2 separate regions of the Homo sapiens genome follow, and region 1 is linked to region 2. Evidence: fine-mapped expression QTL. A gene starts in region 2. The other region holds a variant in brackets. All regions are shown on one strand. Distances are from middle to middle.

Region 1 (10,288 bases), 74 kb before region 2:
GGAATGTATTCCTGTCTCTGAGCGACACGTGACTATATTTACATTTTTTCTTTCTCTCCATCCTTTGTTTCTTCCTTCCTTTATTAAAATGTCCTTTGAAATTTTCAGCAGTACACATTCAAGTTGAATCACTGTTCATTCTAAACACACAATATGCTTCTAATATAAAGTAGAAAGAGGTCAAAGTTGGGGGCATGAACTCTGAGTTCTAGTCCTCATGTTCTCCCCAGCGCGGGGCGGATCATGGCACCACGCATGAGCCCCCGCTTCCCACGCGCGGCGTGGCTCCCCGGCTCCTGACAGTTTCCCTGTGAGGCGCACAGGCTTCCATATGGTTCCCAACACGCCTTCTCCCCTGTCCATACTGTCCTCCTGTCAGATCCTTTGTTGTGAAAGTAATGGCAAAAACCATAATTACTTTTCCACTAACCTCGTAGGTGTCTTGAAAATGGTTTATCTGATATAAAAGTAACTCATGAAATTTAGAAACCTAGGCAAAAGAGACTAACAATTGCCTCTAATTCCAACATCCAGGGAAAACTTTTCTTAGTATATCAGTATATACCTTTTCAGTCTTTTACCTATATAATTTTAAATAATGTTAAAGCTATGACATATTCACATACGATTTTTTATCATACATTTTTCAGTTACTCTTTTATCATGAGTGCTTTCCATATCATTACATATTCTTCCAAAACACTTTTTTTTTTTCTTCAGACAGAGTTTTGCTCTTGTCGCCCAGGCTGGAGTGCAGTGGCGTGATCTCAGCTCACTGCAACCTCCCCCTCCTGGGTTTGAGCAATTCTCCTGCCTCAGCCTCACGAGTAGCTGGGATTACAGGCACCTGCCCAGCTAATTTTTGTATTTTAGTAGAGACGGGGTTTCACCATGTTGGCCAGGCTGGTCTCGAACTCCTGACCTCAGGTGATCTGCCCGCCTCGGCCTCCCAAAGTGCTGGGATTACAGGCGTGAGCTTCCGCACCCAACCTCTTCCAAAACTCTTTTAATAGCTGCTTGGAATTCTGGCTTATGGAAATGTGGAAATTATTGAACATTCCTATGTTTTTGGACATTAGGTTGTTTCCATTTCTTTCCTATTATACCAGTTCTAATTTCCTTCATTTGATTTTTTTTTAATTTATTCTTTTTCAGTCCCCCTGCCCCTGCCACTTACCTTATTCTTCTAATTCCATTCCTGTTAGTAGAGACTATTGTTTAGATGTTAATAACTTTGTGTGCATTGGCAATCATGCTTTCATTTGCATGATGACAAATGCACAAAAATCTTCCACAGTTATTAGGAGAAATCATAAATAAAACAGCAGAGCATGCAGCTTGTGGTCCATGGGCTTATCCTCAATGCTCAGCTCGGGCCTCCCATTCTGGCAGGCATGTGTCTCTCTCATTGTTATCTTGGCACAGCCTGCAGAGAAAGCTCCCTCGGATTGGCTGTGGGGTCTCTGGGTGGCCTGGGACAGGGACTAAGTCTTCAGAGTGGCATAAACAATGCAGGGCCCAGCAGAAGCCTACAAATTGATACTCATTGAATAAAAGGAGGAGGAAAGGGAGGAGGGGGAAATGAGGGAGGGAGAGAGGGAAGGTAGGAGTCAGGAAGGAAAGAGGGGGAAGCAAGGGGAAGGAGAGAAGGAAGGGAGGGAGGAGAAGGAAAGGAGGAGAGAAAGGAAGAAAGAAGAAAGGAAAGGGAGGGAGGGAGACTCCATCAATGGCTGGGGCTGTGCAAGGTGGCAGAAGGCTCTGCTATTCACCAGATTACAAGTTCATGGGCAGAGCACTGACTGAGGGAGTTAAAAGTGAAGGGTTCTAGTCCCAGCTCTGACTCCAACTAGCAGTGTTGCTGTGGGAAAACCATATAACCTTCCTGGGCCCAGGGTGAGGATTTGATTATTTTTGCAGTCTTTCCTGAGGCTCTGGAGGTCTGTCCCTCCGTGTTGGAAGTGGGGTGGGCAGGCACTCACTGCCAGCTTCTAGCTGGCACACCTGCACATGGTGCCCAAGGCCCTGCACAGATGGATAGGAGTGTAGGAGCCACCTACACTGGCGTCCAGCTCAGGGCTTTGAGTGCTGCCAGCGACGCTGCTGCCCTGGGCTGTGGCTTTGGCCTCTTTACTCCTTTATCCAGCACCAGGGGGCTGAAGGGAAACTTCTCAAAGCTGTCGACCTTCCCTCCAGGATAATTTCACAGCCATTATTGCCCCTGCCTGACCTGCTCACAGGTGTCTCCGGGGAGGCAGAACGCAAATGGTTTGCGAATGTTTTCTCCCATTCCATAAGTTACATTTTGATTTTGTTCATTGTTTCCTCTGACATGGAGAAGCTCTTTAGTGTGATGCTATCCTGCTTGTTTATTCTGGTTTATGTTGCCTTTGCTTTTGGTGTCATATCCAAAAAATTATCGTCAAGACCAGTGCCAAGAAGCTTTTCCCCTACGTTTTCCTCCAGCAGTTTGACGGTCTGAGGTCTTATGTTTAAGTCTTTAATCCATTTTGAGTAGATTTTTGTGTACAGTGTAAGATGTGGATTTTCCAGGGTTGCCAGCCCCTTAAAGTTCCTCCTAACGAGTTCTTTCTTTCTGTTTGGTACAGGCTATTTTCAAAATGATCACTCCCGAGGACGTGAAGCTCCTTCCAGACGATGAAAACACGCCGGAAAAGCGAGCCGAGAAGATCTGGAAGTACTTTGGAAAGAATGATGATGGTGAATTCCTTTTCCTTCATTGCCTTTGATTTTTCAACCATGGGCTGTTTCCTGGAAATCCCAACAAGATTTATTCTTCTGAGTCACAGTGTCCAGGCAGGATGGGGGACACCTCATTCCATTGTGCATTTTCAGAGCTGTTTGAAGGGTTGGACAGGGGAATGGCCTTAAGGGTGAGCAGGAGCCAAAACTGTTTTCTGTGCAATTAGAACAAGAGCAAACTTCAGCTCACCCTAGCTTTGAATTAATATCGAGTCCCAAGTCAGTGGGATCTGTATTTCTATGGTTTTACTTTGGGAAGTTGGTTTGGGTCCTCTGAGAAACACCACCAAGATAGGATTAGATTTAAATGAGATTGCAAGAGATTTATGGGAGGAAAGGCTGAAGAAGGAAAACAGGCTGGGATCGAGAGGAGGCTGGGAAAGCTATCAGACTGCCAAGCAGATCTGACCCCTGGCAGGGAGAGAGGGAAAGAAAGGAAGGTTAGGAAAGAAAGGAAGGTTAGGAAAGAAAGGAAGATTAGGTAAGTAATGCCCGAGACTGCAGTGCAGTCTGAGGAAGTGTTGACAGAGTCGATGGGGTGTCCTCAGTGCCCCTGTCAGTCTTGGTGCCCCTGCCCTGTCAGTCAGTGGCTGGAAGCAGCCCCCAGGAAGTGTGATCCTGCACTGTAGGCAGTGATGGACTCCAGCACTCGGCTGCTGGGGCTGTGTGTCTGTGATGCTTACGGCCAGCACAAGGATGCGGTAAAGGAGCTGGTATTAGGCTGGGGCTGCAAACACATATGGCTGGAGGGGCAGGAATGATGAAAACGAGTTATGTGGACAGTCATCTACAAGCAGTGGGGATTGGCAAACAGCAGAGGGTGCACCTCTGGTCTGATGGCTTCCAGCATATTCCATGTGGGGCTATGGAACCCGTGGTTGAGACATCATCTGATTTTTTTTTAAGAGAAGCCAGCCATGAAGACTTTAAAAATCCAGTGTGTCTCAACTGATAAAACACAGCATGGCCCAAACACATCCAAGGGTCCTGTATTAACCCCTTTGGTGACCTCTGGAGGCAGTCTTCTGCCAAGGTTCAAGAAGAAAAAGCTGAGCAGGATGCTAAATAAGGGCAGAGAGAGATGACCCTGCTCCTCCTAATCTGCCAACAAATGATGAAATAAGAGAAGCATGAAGGTCATTGGGGTAGGAGGAACATAGGACACAGAATTTAAGGAGGCGCTCGTTCTCAGGGGTCAACAATGCACTCACAGGACCTGAAAGTGAGCGCCTCCTTAAATTCGCGCCTTGGTACTTTACCCACCTTTCCCTCATCGGCCCGGATTGGCCCCTCACCTTTGAGCACTCTCTCCTCCTTGCACAGACACTGGCTACCAAGATGCCTTCTTTTGGCACTTTGCCCCACTGGCTCCTTAACTGGCTTCGCGACCTCCCTCTGGGTCCGTTCATGTGTCGAGCCCTGTGTTCTGCTTTTTGCTCATCTGAAAACCTCCCTGGTGAACATCCCGGGAGGGGATGACGTCAGAAGCCCCGAGGTCGACGTGTTACTCCTGTTCGTGATGTGTTGTACGTGTTTCCACGCGGCCCATCTGGAGACAATGCCTCAGGGCAGAGTCAGGCTTTGATGGTGGGAGTTTCAAGCTCTCTGTGAGCTCTCTGTGGGGTGGCTGGGATGTTAAAACCCAAATTTTACCACCCAGACTTGCGGAGGAAGCCATCCTGGATCCTAACCCAGAAGGGATTAAAGGTATCCAAAAGGCCCAGAGCATAAGTCAGAAATCACATTCAGTTCAGCAAAGCTTTGTTGAGCACCGACTCTGTGCTAGGCACTGTGAACATACAACAGAAAGGAGCATCTGTCTCATGCTAGAGGTATTTCTGCGTGTGACTGCCTTCCCCGCCAGGTCAACAGTTTCCCAGGGAGGGACTTCATCTCACTCTCTTCTATTGTACACCCCGCCTCCGCTCCCTGTGGTGGCCTTGGCTCCAAGCACAGTGGCATCTGGGCTCAGGACCATGCATTTAACTGGACTGATCTGAATACAGTTAGCCACCTGATTAAAAACACCGGAAAACCAGGTGTGGGCGCAACAAGGCTGTCTCTCAGTCCTGATCCCAAATAAGGAGGCAGATGAGACTGGGGGACGCAGGGATGGATGCATAGGAAGGGATCATGGCGGAGTTGTCAGCCAGGAATCATGGGGCTGCCTGTGTGCTGCAGGTGCCAAAGAGACCTCTCTGCAAGCCACACTCCCCCTGGCATGATCTCATTGGGCCCTTCACTTCTCACTCCTATTTCTGGAGGGATGTTGTTCCCTGCTTCTCAGCTGAGACTCTGGGCCTGACATCCAGATTGTTTTGCTATGCTCAGACCCCCAGAAGCTCCTCCTGAACTTGATCCTTGAAACTTGAGCTACTATAGAAAATAGAATAACAATTAATAGTTATTAATTATTGAAGTATTTAATAACCAGCAAGGCAGGGGCACCGGCCAATCGGAAGAGACACATAGCACAAGACTGGCATCTTGGGGGCCCCCCCAGTGCCAGTCATTCACCGCTCTTTGCTGGTCT[G/C]CAGGGAGCTCCAAGGGTCATGGGAAAGGAGGTGGGTATCTGGACTGGGGTGGGGGAATATTGAATACTCAGGGCCACTGAGTATTCAATATTCTTATAATAGATACATTCACACTGGGGATACTGGCTAGATGTCAGCCTCATCGCAGCTCACTTGGCTATCAATCCTGACTGTTTTATGTACGTATATATTTTTTCCCAATGCACAGATAAACTTACAGAGAAAGAATTCATTGAGGGGACACTGGCCAATAAGGAAATTCTGCGACTGATCCAGTTTGAGCCTCAAAAAGTGAAGGAAAAGATGAAGAACGCCTGATGCCAACTGTTCAGCTGTCCTCCCTCCACCTACCACTCACATGACACCCGTGAGCGCCTGTGCACACACACACACATGCACACACACGCGCGCGCACACACACACACACACATCCACCCCAGGGCCAAGAGAAAGGCCTGCACACAAGCCCACAGCACAGCTCCCTGCCAAACTGAAGCATCTGTAGTGACCCACTGGTTCCTTCTTCCTGGGTCTTCAGCATTCCCTCCCATCATGCCCGGTCCCACCCCTCCCTCTGTCCACCAGCCCATGGCCCTGTGCTAATCCCAGGATTAGGCCATAGGAGTCCTAAGTGTCACCCCGCTGTAAGCTCCTTTGTGGAGTGCTGGGTAAGCAGTTTCCAATAAACGCAAGCTGAGCTGGGCACGTGGCTGCTGGTCATCCTTCAACTGGAAAAGGAAATGATTTCTATCAGTCACACCTCAAAGACAAGGCTGTGTTGCGATGGCAGCCCTAGGCTGGGCTGCTTTGGTGCGGAATGAGTCTAATGCGGTCCTGCTGTCATGGAGCTCATGGTCCAGAGGGGACAATGAACCTGGAAGGAGCCATGACCAGTGGCCCAGGTTACCATGGAAACGTGCAGAGCACCAGGGGAGGACACAGTGGAAGGGGCTGACTTGTCAGGGGGGATCAGGGACCACATCCCTGACGAAGGGAGATTTAAATTCAGAACCACTGCACACGAGGCGGGGGACGGGGTCGGGGTGGGGAAGTCTCAAACAGAAGGCGGCCAACACAGAGCCGCTGAGGCATGAATGACCATCTCGAGTTCCAGGAGAAGGTCGGGGTGGCTGGAGGGTAGAAGGAGGAGGGAGAGCAAAGTGTGAGCTGAATCTAAAAGGTAGGCGGGGGCTGGACCACGCAAAGCCCTCCCTGCAGCCTGTGGTAAGCACTTGGGGGCTCACCATGGGGACAGCGGTGCCACTGTGGAGTTGGAAGTAGGAGGGGTTTATGTTTGTAAGAGAAGTCCCCAGCAGGCTAAAATAAGTCAGAGAGGAGCAACTGGGGGCTCCCTGGAGTCAGGGAGCCCGATGAATAAGCTTTTGCAGCCACTCAGATGGCCTGGGCCAGGGGAAAGGCAATGGGATGGAGAGGACCAGATCCAGTGAGGACACATTTAGGAGGTAGCATCCACCTGGCTGGCTGAGGGGGCAGGAGGAGAGAGGGCAGGAATGGCAGCCAGGCCTGTAGCTTGGGCAGTGGGTGAATAGCAATGCCATCTATGGAGATGAGAAATACAGAGAGTCTTTGGGGTTTCAGGGAACAATGATGAATTCAGCTTCAATATAGTATGAGGTGAAGGCAGAGCCATAGATGGCCCTAAAGCCCCTTGTTTTAGAGACAAGGAAAAGGAGTCCCAATGACAGGAAGCAGCTTGCCCAAGGGCAGCCAGCTGATGAGCAGAGGTCAGGCAAGGGCTACCCACCGGCCCCCAACTGCCTCCTCAAAGCTCCAGGGCCTGGGATACCCAGGAACTCCATCAGTGCATTCTCCAAGATCCCTGGATTTGTTGCTTTGAAGGCCCATTTATTCTCCAGCCTCAAGTTCCAAGATGAGGTCAGAAAAATGCATGGATACCCTGGATTCTTGACTGACCTGTCTGCAACCTCTTGAGGCTGAGGAGTCTCTAGTTGCTGGTATTGTGGTGATGCCTCCAGACCCCACTTTAGCCACAGAGATGACACAATCACCACTGCCAAAGAGCACTCCTCTGTGTGGAGAGCAAACGTGAGAATAAACACTTATGAACCGTGCACCATGCTAGACTCTGCCATCATTATTTCATTGATGGAGATGTTATTATCTGCACAATACAGATGAGGATACTGAGGGCAGGAAGTGTGAGTAGGAGTTGGTACTTAAACTGGAGTCCCTTTGATTACACCAGATTTCTCCAATAGTTTTGACCTGGACACAGCAGGATAGAGAACTCTAGGATTGCACAATGTCAGAGATGGAAAGGGGAAGGAGGCTACAAGGCATGAGTCCAGAGGTTCTGGGAGGAGAAGGATTATTACTAGAATCATCTACCCAAGGCATTCTCCCATGTAGACATAGTGGGCTATATAGAAGCCAGTTCAGTGGGAGATAAAAGACTCTGTGGGTCCAGTCCAGAGTGTTCTAGGAATATAACCAAAGGGCTCAATGCTCTTTCCACCACACTCCATGAATGAATCTGGTTGCTTCGAGGATGAGGCTGGGGGCTTTTCACTTCTCTCTGAGGTCAGTCTATCATTGTCACTTGAGTCTAAAAGGACAGACACTGCATAATTAGGTCCTTGCTGGTTTGTGGTTCAATGGGAGAGCCAAAGAGTGAAAACCTAATTAGTGCCTCTTTTTTTAGCTTAGGGTGGAAGGACCACTTGGGCTGAGATTCTCTACAGCTGTATGACACTTTGTGGAAAATAAAGCATGAAGTTCAACTTGGCCACAGGGAAGAGGAGGTGGAGATAGTGATGAGCTATGTCATCAAGACTCTTCCAGATGCAAAAGGTAGATGACCTGGCACAAATTATTGTGGCACAAATAGAAATTGCTTGGCTCTTATAGCTGAAATTCTAGGAGTAGGGCTAGCTTCAGGTATGGCTTAATCCAGGGGCTCCAACAATGTCCCAGAGTTCATTTCTCCCTCTCCTGGTTCTGGTTTCTGCTGTCACCACCATTCTCAGACAGGTTCTTCCCATGCTGGCAGGACGGTCACCAGCAGATCCAGGCTGCCTTCTTCATGGTTCCAATTTCAGCAGAAAAGAGAAAATGCTTTCTCTTAAGAGTCCCAGCCAAAGTGTCAGGATTGCATCTCACTGTCTCTGGTTAGTTATATGCCCATGCCTGACTCAATATCTGATGCCAGAAGGATGTACTGCTCTGCTTGGCCAGCAGATTTTTATGCCCATCCTTGAACTGAGGATAGAGTCAGGACAACTCAAGTTCCGTGGACTGACAGTAGGAGATGAGTGGTTTTTCCAAGAGGAAAATTGGGGTACTATAAGAAGGGCAGATTCTAAAAATAGATGTCTACTATAGAGACCTTGGGGAAGTCATTTCCTGTCTCTAGATCCCTGACTCCTCAAGTACATGTAAATTCAAGGGCAGAAATGGGTCTCATTAAGAGCAATAATCCAAACTGCCTGAGCTTCTGTTGCCACCTGCCCACATAAGATCCCAGCCCCTTGTGCAGTGTCTCTTGGGCATTTTTAGCATCTCCAGGAGGTGTCCCACACAGATTCACCCATAGATCCCTTAGTGCCAGGTGCCATTGCTGCCCTCAAGTACTACGTTCCTAATCACAGGCGAGGCCACAGTGCTCCTAATGTACCCAAGCTGTGTGCTGATCTGCTGAGGAGCCTTCTAGGTTAGAGTCTATCAGAACAGCCCCATGGGAAGTAGCATGTGTCACGGAAACAGCTTTTGTCATTGCCTCCTGGAAACAGCTCTCCTAGCTTTTGTCTGAAGCTTCTCTTCTCTCACCAGGCTCAGACTCTGACCATGGAGCCAAGTGGGGTCAGCCGCCGTACTGCTGTCCACTTCACTCCCATTTCTGCCCCTTAATGGTTATATAAACTCATCAGACAAGCCCAAAAATGTCTGTGTCTCAGGCTCTTAGGCTCCAGCTGGATGACCACTCCTTAAAAAATAAAACTGGGCCAGCCACACCTACATTGCCTGTCACTTAAGAGTTGTGAGAATCAGTTGAGTCTGTGCTTGTGGAAGAATTTGAGCTCTAAATGCTACATGGGAGAAAGACTCAGTTTATTTGGACTTCGGCAAGGTATTGTCAGTTTCCAGAGGAGGGTTCACCTCCTTCCCCTCTGCCTCAGTTCCAATGTTCTCAACCTTGGTCCCATATTAAAGTCACACAGGTGGCGTTGATGCCAAAGCACGGGCAGCAAAAGAAAAACAAATAGACACATTGGACTTCAACAAAATTTAAAACTTTTCTACATAAAAGGGCACTATCAAGAGGCAAAAAGACAATCTACAGAATGAGAGAAAATATTTGCAAATAATAGATAAGGTATCCATATTCAGAATGCATAAAGAATTCCTGCAACTCAACAACAAAAAACAAACAATCCAATTGAAAAATGGGCCAAGAATTGAATAGATATTTTTCTAAAGAAGACTCACAAAGGACTAATCAGCAGGCACATAAAAAGATGCTTGACATCATTAGTCATTCCGGAAACGCAAATCAAAACCACAATGAGATACCATTTCACAGCCATTAGGAATGGTTATCATAAAAAAATAGAAAATAAATGTTGGCAAAGGCCATGGAGCATTTGGAATCCTCATGCATTGCTGGTGGGAATATAAAATGGCGCAGCTGTTGGGGAAAATATAGAATCACCATATGATTCAGCAGTTCCACTTGTAGGTATACTCAAATTTTTAAAACAGAAACCAGATGTTTATACATCCCTACCAATAGCAGCATTATTCACAATAGCCAAACATGGAAACAAGCCAAGTGTCCATCAATGGATGAACAGATAAACAAAATGTGGTATGCATGGAATATTATTCAGCATTTTAAAAAAGGAATTTCTGACACACACTACAAGGTGGATGATCCTTGAGGGCACTATGGGAGTGAAATAAGCTGATCACAAAAGGATACATACTATACAGTTCCACTTATAGCTGATGTATCC
Region 2 (10,288 bases):
ACTCAGACTGTCTTCCCTTGCCCTAAAGACATAAAAAACACAAGGGGTACATCCAAGTTCAATCACAGCCAGATTCCCAAAGTCATGAGGAAAGAAGATATACGGGTGAATTTTTTTCCAACTGGAAAAGTCCAGCTTGACCTTGATTCCTTTTCCCTTGCATAGGCAACCAGCATCAGCAACGAACTTGGCCGAGAAGGGATTAAGGAAAAGGAAAGAAAAATCCTTATACTGACTCTCTTTAAATAAATCTGTTTTTCTTTGTTAGAGAAGGAATACACTTCACTGTAGATGAAATAGAAATCACAGCTATGCAAAAAGGGGAGAAGGTGAAATTATCATCTCATTACTCAGAAATTACCATCTACTTCCAGATTCTTCTCTCTGTGAATGAAAGACACATTCATTGTCTTTCTTTTCTTTTTTATTGTGACTTCAAAGGGAATAATCTTGTTTCAAAGCCTTTTATGTTTCATTAGAAGACCAATATTGTGAATATATTTCCATTTCAAGAAATAAATAATAAATGAAGTAAAGCATCCTTTTAACAGCTACATAACATTCTATGAAAAAAAGTGATATAATTTAGTTTTTAAATCCTCTAGCGTTGAATGCCTATGTTGTTTTAAGATGTTTGCTGACGTAAATGATGCTGTGATTAAAATCCTCATAGTTGAACATTTGAGAGCACATCTTTATTTCTTAGAAATTCTTTGAATTTGAATTTCTGGGTCACAGAATGCACATAGTTTTAAAGGTTTTTGACTGCCAAACTGTCTACCCTCACCAAAAAAAAAAAAAAATTAAAAATTTTAAATATGCACCATTTTACCCTCCTGCCATCCATGTATAAAAGGGCCGCAATGTACTTCTCAAAAATCCTTAGATAGTTTATGTTTTTGATGCCAAAGCAACTGCTAAATAACTTAAACGAGTGTGGGAGAGAGTGGTGTGGGGATAACACTACCTCCCTGCTTGAATTTAGAAACTAAACTATCCCTGAGAATTTCTCATTAAGTGAAATTTTTGAAGACTTCCTGCCAGAACACACACCACAGTCATTTATATTCCATGCAGGGAAAGAGGCTATGAGCAGAATTTATCATGAAAGTCTTCACAAAGCCTTGTAATATAAACATCTAGAAAAGGAATATGGGGTTAAGATGGAGAACCAAGAGTAAGGCCATCAGAATTACAGACACACCCGGAGGACAGACAGCCAGAAATGCTCTGAAAACGCAGACTGGGTGGCAGAGAGTGGAAGCAGACACTGCCAGCAGACATGTTATTGATTATAAAAATACCAGACTGAAAGGGTCAAGGTGTGGCTTTCTCAGCCTGGTAAGCCGGCCCGAGGCTCTGCAGATTCCGCTGTTGTAACATAAATATTCATACATCAGCAACTCCCAAGAGCACTCCGGAAGAAAAAACACAGGGCTTCAAACACCCCGGGTAGGCACAACGGCTACAGTGCTCAGGAGCTACAGCATCGAACGCAACCATTTAACTCCTCTGAAGCTTAATTTGCCCATCTGTAAAAGGGGCTCAGTAATAACACTCTTCTCAGAGGCTTGTGTTGAGGATTAAGTAAGATGATGTGTGAGGAAGCATTTTATGATAATATCCTGAGCGCTGTCTCAGGGCTTGGCATGTGGTCAGCAATCCACATTTGTGAACAAAACTACATGATAAGCTGGATACACTCACTCAGTGTTGATATGAGATATCCAGAGAATGGAAGCAAGGATGAATGTTCTGAACCAACCCTCCCACCAAATGGTCCCACCACTAACACATTGAAGTCCTGGGACCAGAGGCAGGCCAGGGCCACCTTCCTGAAGGATGTTCTGGTCACTGGGGGAGAGGCTGCCAAGATGGCAAGAATTCCATGAAACCATTGATTGGGCTCACATTTACAATCCATGAGGGCCTGAAGGCAGCCTCTAGGGGAACCTGGATGTAGGAAATCTGGCAGGGGTTATCTGCCTGTCTAGCCCCAGGCTTGCAACAAAGAAAGCCTGAGGTGAACCCTCATGAGACCTGGTACCACAGCCTGCCCTACATGGGGATTGGAGGGGTTTAGAATTCCAAGACCATGAACAGGGACTCACCCTGCCCATGGAACGAAGGAGGAAGACAGCCATTCCTTTTTTTTTTTTTTTTTTTTGAGACAGATCCTCACTCTACTGCCCAGACTGGAGTGCAATGGCGTGATCTTGGCTCACTGCAACCTCCACCTCCAGGTTCAAGCAATTCTCCTGCCTCAGCCTCCTGAGCAACTGGCATTACAGGCACACACCACCATGCCCAGATAATTTTTGTATTTTTTAGTACAGACGGGGTTTCACCACGTTGGCCAGGCCGGACTTGAACTCCTGACCTTGTGATCTGCCCACCTCAGCCTCCCAAAGTGTTGGGGTTACAGGCGTGAGCTACCGTGCCCAGTCTGAGCCATTCCTTAAGCTACTTTCGTTATTCAGACAAGTGGAACTGGGGTTCCTTCCCATCATCCTTTTATACTGCCCATAGCCCAGTATCCAAATGGAAACTTGGAAAGAGGACGAAGGTCTAATCTTCTTGGATAGAATAAAGCAAGCTACCAGCATGCCCAACGATAGAGGATAGTTAAAGACATTACAATAAACCCTTAAAGCCCTTAAATATTATACCATGGATCTACATTTACTAACATGGACGAATGTTGCTCAACTTCTCCGAGACTCAGTTTACTCATCTGTAAAAGGGGATTAACAAGAGAACCTCAGTCTATAGGGTTGCTGAGAACACAGAAGGAGAAAATATGAGGAACGGGGGCACCTGGCACTCAACCCAGTGCAGAGCAAGTGCTCCATAGTGATGTCAGCTGTGTTATTAGTGTATTTTGTTATGAAGAAAGCAGATTACAAAATAATATTTATAGTATGTGCCTGTGTTTGTTTAAAAAAAAAAACTGTATGTAGGCCTGGTACAGTGGCTCATGCCTATAATCTCAGCACTTTGGGAGGCCGAGGCGGGTAGATCACTTGAGGTCAGGAGTTCAAGACCAGCCTGGCCAACATGGTGAAACCCCATCTCTACTAAAATACAAAAATTAGCCGGGTGGTGGCACGTACCTGTAATCCCAGCTACTCAGGAGGCTGAGGCAGGAAAATCACTTGAACCCGGGAGGCAGAGGTTGCAGTGAGCCAAGATCTCACCACTGCACTTCAGCCTGGGCGACAGAGCGAGACCCCATCTCAAAAAACAAACAAACAAACAAACAAAAAACTGTATGCAAACAATGGTAGAAAAATGTCTGGAAGTATAAGCCCCCAAATGTGAATGAGGATGATCTGCAGCTGTTGGAAGTAGAGTGATTTGTAGTTTGCATTTCACTTCTTTGAATTGTATTTTAAAAAAACAATTAGCGTTCAACATTTTTGTAATGAAAGGAAAAAGGAAACAGAAGGGAAAGGAAAGGAAAGGAAAAAGAAAAATGGATTTGCTCAACCTAAATACTCAAAGCTGGGAGAATACTGAAGACAAACAGAAGGATATGTGCAGCAATTGTAAATGCTATTTGCAGAACTCACATTGACGTGGGGAAATGCTTATAATATGATGCGGGGCTGGTTGGGGGGACCAGGACACAACATGTTTTATGCTTCCTAATATCAGCTGTTGTAAAAAAAAACAAATGCATAGAGAAAAGGTTTGAGGACAATATGCCAAAATATGAACAGTGATTACCTTTGAATGCTAGGATTATGGCGGCTCATTATTTTCTTAATACTGTTTTCTCTTTTCCAAATTGCTTACATGAGGCCTAAATTGCTTCTTTAAAAAAAAATCAGGAAATACAACTGATAATAATAATAATAATGAACTGCTCTTACTTGCTTGATGGAAACCAGCAGGACCAGAGTGAGGAAGGGCCTCCCAGGGGCCCAGAGAGAGCACTTCCTGTGGAAGGAGAGAGGACTGGTCCCCCAGGGGGCAGGGATGCCCATGGGCAGCTCGTGGACGCCAGGCAGGAGTCCCGCGCTTCCTCTCCCAGGCCCTGCCCTGCTCGATCCCAGCTTCATCTTCCTCGTGCACCTTCACAAGTAGGGGTACATCTCTCTAGCCGTCCAAGATGCACCGCAGGCAGCCTCCTCTTGCATTCCTCTTGGTCCACAGAGGAAATGTTTGCACAAATCCTCTCCACGCTGCGCCGAGAGTGTCTGAGGCGGTCTAGAGCAATCTACGGAGTCTTCAGAGTTCCTTCTCGGCCCTGGCTCATCCCCCGCCCCTGCCCCCCCAAAAGCAGGGAGATTTTTCCCAGACCTTCCCTAAGTCAGCTGTGCTTTCTGGGACTTCCTTGACAGGCTGAGGAGAAAGAACAAGGCGGTCAGCGGGCTCCACCCTGAAGGTTCTGCTCAATGCACGAAGCTGGCTGAGACAGGCTGGGGTTCGAGCTACAGAGGAATGGCTGGCAGAAGGCGATGGGGCTCGAGCCAGTTTAGAGGCAGGTGTCTTTTTGAGGCAGGGTATTTCTTTCTAAGGCATTAAGCTTGTCCAGGCTGGGCTGAGGCTAACCACAAAGGCAAAATCTCCTCTGGGTCCTGTTTATGCAGAGACTGCAGGAGAGGTGGTTGCTCAGCTCAGGAGAGAACAGCTCCCAGCCCAGGCCATGAAGCAAAAACCCAATCAGCGGCGTAGGTTATGCCTACACAATAGCAAAACAGTGTGTTGAAAAGTGCAACATTCACTCATCTTGAATGCCCACTTGTTCTAAGCACATGTGGCTCAGCCCACCTGACAGACCCTTTTATGGAATTGATGATACATCACTTACTAACCAGCACAGGAGTAGGCTGTCCCCACAACTCACATTGACAACGTCTTTTAACCCACCATCCTATTTCGCACATCCTGACAATAACCCCATGAGGATACGATGAATTCTCCATTTGACAGCTGAGAAACATTGAGGCTCAGAGAGGTTGGATGGCTTGCCCAAAGCCACACAGCAAGTAAACAGCAGAACCGGATAGGCAGGTCTTCTGACCAGAGTTGCTTGAGCACAGGTACTTGGGAGGGTGCCCTGTCCTGCCCCTGCCCTCTCCGGTGAGTTCTTAGCAGGCTCATCGCCATGCCTCCCAAAGGCTCTGCTTGGAACTTCTTACTCCACCTCTCCCAGGCCAGCTCCCAGCGTCCCTGCAATGTCTCCCAGCCTCCCAAATTGGAGGCCCAGGTGGAAGATGTCTTGATTGGTTGGAACAGTGAGTCAGCAAGAGGCAAGAAGAACATGTTTTCACTTCGTTTTTGGTTTTGTTTTTGTGTTATTTTTTCCTTCCCTCTTCAAGTCAAACATAGGAACTCATCCTGGGTAACTTTTCAACTGAATGAATTCTGAACAGTTGGGAAAAGCAGCCATGCTTTTCTTAATAGACATCCCTAAAAATCTTAAAAACTCCATGTGACAAGATTTTAGACCTTAACAATGAAAAGCTCAACTAGAACAAAGACCCTAGAAATGGACTCAGAGTGGTGTCACCTCTGGAATTGACGTGGTCATCTCTCTGGGATGGCAGAGAGCAGGATGGAGTGACCCAGAGGGAGAAAGTACCCAAGGGATGGACTTTGGTCATTGAATGTGGCTGCAACTCCGTTCTGTGAGTGCTCATTAAAGATCATCTTCCAAGTTGCATGCTGGAAAATGGTCTGTCTTTAAAGAAAATACCTGCTTTGCAAGAATATTCCATCTCATCTCTTGCAACTTTTTCTCAAAAACATCCTTTATTTCTGAAGGGATGAAAGTTGGGGGCCACACACGACTTCCCCACCCATTGGCTGGTTGCCCTCTAGCGATGGAACTTAGTAAGGCCTCTTCCCTTGAGACTGGACACCCCACCAGGCCAGTGAGAGCACAGGACACAGGTGCCCAGACTCGGCCAGCGGCAAAGTATAGATGGAGTGATATTAACCCAGTATCACTGTCTAGCCCAGGCACATAGATTCCAGATTCTGTCTGGGGGGTATTCAGGAGGTGTCTAACACATCATCAAGAGCCTGTGTGTTTTCAGGATGCTCTGCAGAATCTTCTGCCCTCACACCTTCATCAGTGTCCTCTGCCCGAGGAGTTCCTTAAAAATCTTCAGCATCACTGCTCCTGCCAGTGCCCCGTTCAGTGAGGGCCTGAGCGATGGTGCCCAGGGTTCTGTCTTCTAGCATCTGCGGGCCCCTGGCCTCAGAACCCTGCAGCCAAGTGGGATACATGCTGCCCTCCCCATTCTGCACAGCACCTTGGCCCTGAGGTAGCCTGCCTGTACCTCGCATCACCCAGCATCCCTGGAACAAGCATCTGTTTTCCGTAGTCCTTCTCTACATAGAGCTGGACAAGAAACAGGCCTATGAAGTCCTTGGGATTCCCTGATTCCGGAATCCAACACTAAGGACCTGCTCCATGCAAAAGGCAATGGTGAGGCTGTCTCACCAAGACAGCCACCCAAACAGCCCCTGGTCTTCCATCAAAACCAGCACCCTCCACAACAGCCAAAAGGTGGAAAAAACCCAGGTGTCTGAATAGATGAACAAAATGCTATCCAACAAACACAGGGAATATTATTCTGCCTTGAAAAAGGAAGGACATTCTGACACATGCTACAACATGCATGAAGCTTGAGGACATTATGCTAAGCGAAGTAAGCAAGTCACAAAGGGACGGATACTGTATGAGTGCACTTACAGGAGGCACCTAGAGTAGTCAAATTCATAGAAACAGAGAGAAGAATGGTGGCTGCCAAGCAGAGGAGGAAGGGCAATGGGAGTTGTGTGATGGGTACAGATGATGAAAGATGAAAAGAGTTCTGGAGGTGGATGGTGGTGATGGTTGCACAACACTGTGAGCGTAGTTAATGCCACTAAACTTTGCACTTAAAAATGGTTGAGATGCCAGCCTGACCAACATGGTGAAACCCCGCCTCTACTAAAAATACAAAAATTAGCCGGGTGTGGTGACGTGCGCTTGTAATCCCAGCTACTCTAGAGGGTGAGGCAGGAGAATCACTTGAACCCGGGAGGCGGAGGTTGCAGTGAGCCAAGATTATGCCACTGCACCCCAGCCTGGGCGACAGAGTGAGACTCCATATCAAAAAAAAAAAAAAAAAAAAAAAAGATTGAGATGGCCAAGTGTGGTGGCTCATGCCGGTAATCCCACACTCTGGGAGGCCGAGGCAGGTGGATCACCTGGGGTCAGGAGTTTGAGAACAGCCTGGCCAACATGGTGAAACCCCGTCTCTACTAAAAATACAAAACTTAGCCGGGCATGGTGGCGGGCACCTGTAATCCCAACTACTTGGGAGGCTGAGGTAGGAGAATCACTTGAACCCAGGAAGTGGAGGTTGCAGTGAGCCAAGACGGTGCCACTGCACTCCAGCCTGGGTGACAGAGTGAAACTCTGTCTCAAAAAAAGAAAAAAAAAAGGTTGAGATGGTTAATTTCATGTTATGTGTGTTTTACCACAATTTAAAAACAATGCCCTCTGGCTGGGCACGGTGGCTCACGCCTGTAATCCCAGCACTTTGGGAGGCCGAGACAGGTGGATCACGAGGTCAGGAGATCGAGACCATCCTGGGCATCATGGTGAAACCTCCTCTCCACTAAAATACAAAAAATTATCCCAGCATGGTGGCATGCACCTGTGGTCCCAGCTACTTAGGAGGCTGAGGCAGTGGAATCACTTGAACCCGGGAGGCAGAGGTTGAGGTGAGCCAAGATCATGCCACTGCACTCCAGCTTGGGCAACAAGAGAGAAACTCCATCTCAAAAAAACAAACAAACAAACAAACAAAAAAAAACAATGCCCTCCCGCACACCTACCTCCTGGGGAGAATGGCAGGGCCAGCACCCTTGACAGGAACGTGCCCCGGCTCTGTGCCTCTGGATCTGGTGTGGCAGCACGTGCAATTCTCCAGGGGGACGTGAGAGGAGGCTGTGTGAGGATGCCAGATGGCAGAGCTGAGGGGCAGGTACCGTGACGAGGCAGGAGGAGGGGGCCCCACAGCTCATCCTGCCCCACGCACCTCACTCAGCCATGGACAGGGCCAAGCAGCAGCAGGCGCTGCTCCTCCTCCCTGTCTGCCTCGCCCTCACCTTCTCCCTCACCGCCGTGGTCAGCAGCCACTGGTGTGAGGGGACCCGACGGGTGGTGAAGCCACTGTGCCAGGACCAGCCGGGAGGGCAGCACTGCATTCACTTCAAACGGGACAACAGCAGCAATGGCAGGATGGACAACAATAGCCAGGCTGTCCTGTACATTTGGGAGCTGGGTGATGACAAGTTCATTCAGCGGGGGTTCCATGTGGGGCTCTGGCAGTCCTGCGAGGAGAGCCTCAACGGTGAAGGTGAGCAAAGCCTGTAGATTCTGGGGAAGACAGGTGCGGGATGGGGCAGGGGCTCTGGAGCCAGGCTGTCTGGGTTTGAATCCTGCAGATTCTGGGGGTAACAGGTGCGGGATGATGCAGGGGCTCTGGAGCCAGGCTGTCTGGGTTTGAATCCTTCATCTCCACTGATTGTCTAGGTATCCTTGAATAAGTCCCTTCACCTCTCTGAGCCTCAGTTTTCTCATCTGTAAAATGGGAATGATAGCAGTACTTACCTCCAAGAGTGATTGTAAAGATGAAATGACCAGATTCACATACAGAGCTTGCAACAGGGCCTGACACATTGCAAGTGTTTATTAAAATTAGTTTCTCGTTTGTTCTTGTCACTGAATCCCTGGTATTTAAAATCCTTTGGGAATGAAAGGTGGTCCCGACCCAACTCGAAGGTGCATCCCTGTTATTTATCCTGCACTTGGAATGATCTTGGAGTGAATCTTTAAAAACAGAAGTGTTTTTACCTCTCAAAGAATTGAGGAGGGAGGAATTTGACTCTTCCATATTTGGCAGCCTGGCTGTAAGCCCGCGTTCAGGGACAGAGTACTCTTCCCTTTCTGCTTGGGACGCAAAACCTCCAAGGCAGAAAAAGGAGGAATCCTCCCATCCCCATTTCTTTCCTGACCTCAGCTTATTACAGTCAATTTCTTGCACAGTTTTTTAACTTTTTCTGGAGTTTCTAATTGCCTTTTCTTTTTCCATTCTCATAGCATTTGATTTTTGTTCCTGAGGCCTAAGTAAAAGGCAACAAGAATGAAGCCCCTGAGGCCCAGCCTGGTGGCTCATTCCTATAATCCTAGCACTTTGGGAAGCTGAGACAGGAGAATCACTTGAGACCAGGAGTTACAGACCAGCCTGGCAACATAGGCAACATAGTGAGACCTCTCTTTACAAAAGGTTTTTTTAAAAAATTAGCTGGACATGGTGGGGTGTGCCTGTGGTCCCAGCTACTCTGGGAGGATCACTTGAGCCTGGGAGGTTGAGGCTGCAGTGAGTCATCATCGTGTGACTGCCCTCCAGCCTGAATGATAGAGCGAGACCTGTCTCAAATTAAAAAAAAAAAAAAAGGAACACTCAGAGGTGCTGTATGTCCCTCCCTTCCACCCTCTCTCCCAGTGGTGGCCAATGTGGGGCAGTACCCAGCCTGACTGAACCTCCCATGTATCCAGGCCAGTGCCTGTGTCTTGTGCTTTAAGTGTGGTACAGACACTGCAATAGTGCCTGGAGCTAAGGCTATTTAGGACCTCCACAGTTCCTCGCTTCTCAGGGAGTGCTATCTTCCTATGAGTCTCTTCCCCACCTTCATGGACAGAGGCAAAAGTCTCAGGACCCTGCATCCTGGAGGATTTCCAAAACACTTCCAGAATTTTGGTTTGGAAACTGTATTCACCATACTTATAGGCAAATCACTTGGGAAATTCCATCTCCTTTCCAAGTTCTCATATGAGGACTGCCTATAGTACTTCTGTTTCCACAGCTCTATATAGGCGTCACACCAGTTATCAAATGTATCACCCAAGGAACTTGTAAAAGAAATATCCAGGTGCCCAGTCCTGGAGGTTCTAATTTAAGAGAGCCGGGGTGGAGTCTAGAGGTCTGTATTCTTATTTTATTTTATTTTATTTTATTTTTTATTTTGAGATGGAATTTCCCTCTCGTTGCCCAGGCTGGATTGCAACGGCGCAATCTCAGCTCACTGCAACTTCCACCTCCTGGGTTTTAAGTGATTATCCTGCCTCAGCTTCCCCAGAAGCTGGGATTACAGGCATGAGCCACTGTGCCTGGCCAAAATTTTTTTTTAAAGAAAAAGAATACAGGCCAGGCGTGGTGGCTCACACCTGTAATCCCAGCATTTTGGAAGGCTGAGGCGGGCAGATCACCTGAGGTCA

Evidence for each region. PIP is the estimated chance that this variant, and not a neighbour inherited with it, causes the effect. A credible set is the group of variants that fine-mapping cannot tell apart.
Region 1: its variant is the best candidate, but not a certain one, in a credible set for the expression of GLP2R in sigmoid colon (GTEx, PIP 0.78).

What each region holds. Positions count from the first base shown.
Region 1 is chr17:9,893,419-9,903,706 of GRCh38, reverse strand. It overlaps RCVRN (recoverin), which reads left to right. Exons shown (of 3, transcript NM_002903.3): 2 at 2,607-2,718; 3 at 5,503-7,387. The coding sequence ends at 5,612. Among named protein-coding and RNA genes, the nearest start is that of RCVRN, 6.7 kb to the left of the region's middle. RefSeq lists an enhancer at 4,158-4,659. The variant G/C (reference allele first, on the strand shown) is at 5,294.
Region 2 is chr17:9,819,840-9,830,127 of GRCh38, reverse strand. GLP2R (glucagon like peptide 2 receptor) reads right to left here and starts at 4,204. Exons shown (of 13, transcript NM_004246.3): 1 at 3,876-4,204. The coding sequence starts at 4,064. GSG1L2 (GSG1 like 2) reads left to right here and starts at 8,049. Exons shown (of 5, transcript NM_001310219.2): 1 at 8,049-8,366. The coding sequence starts at 8,057.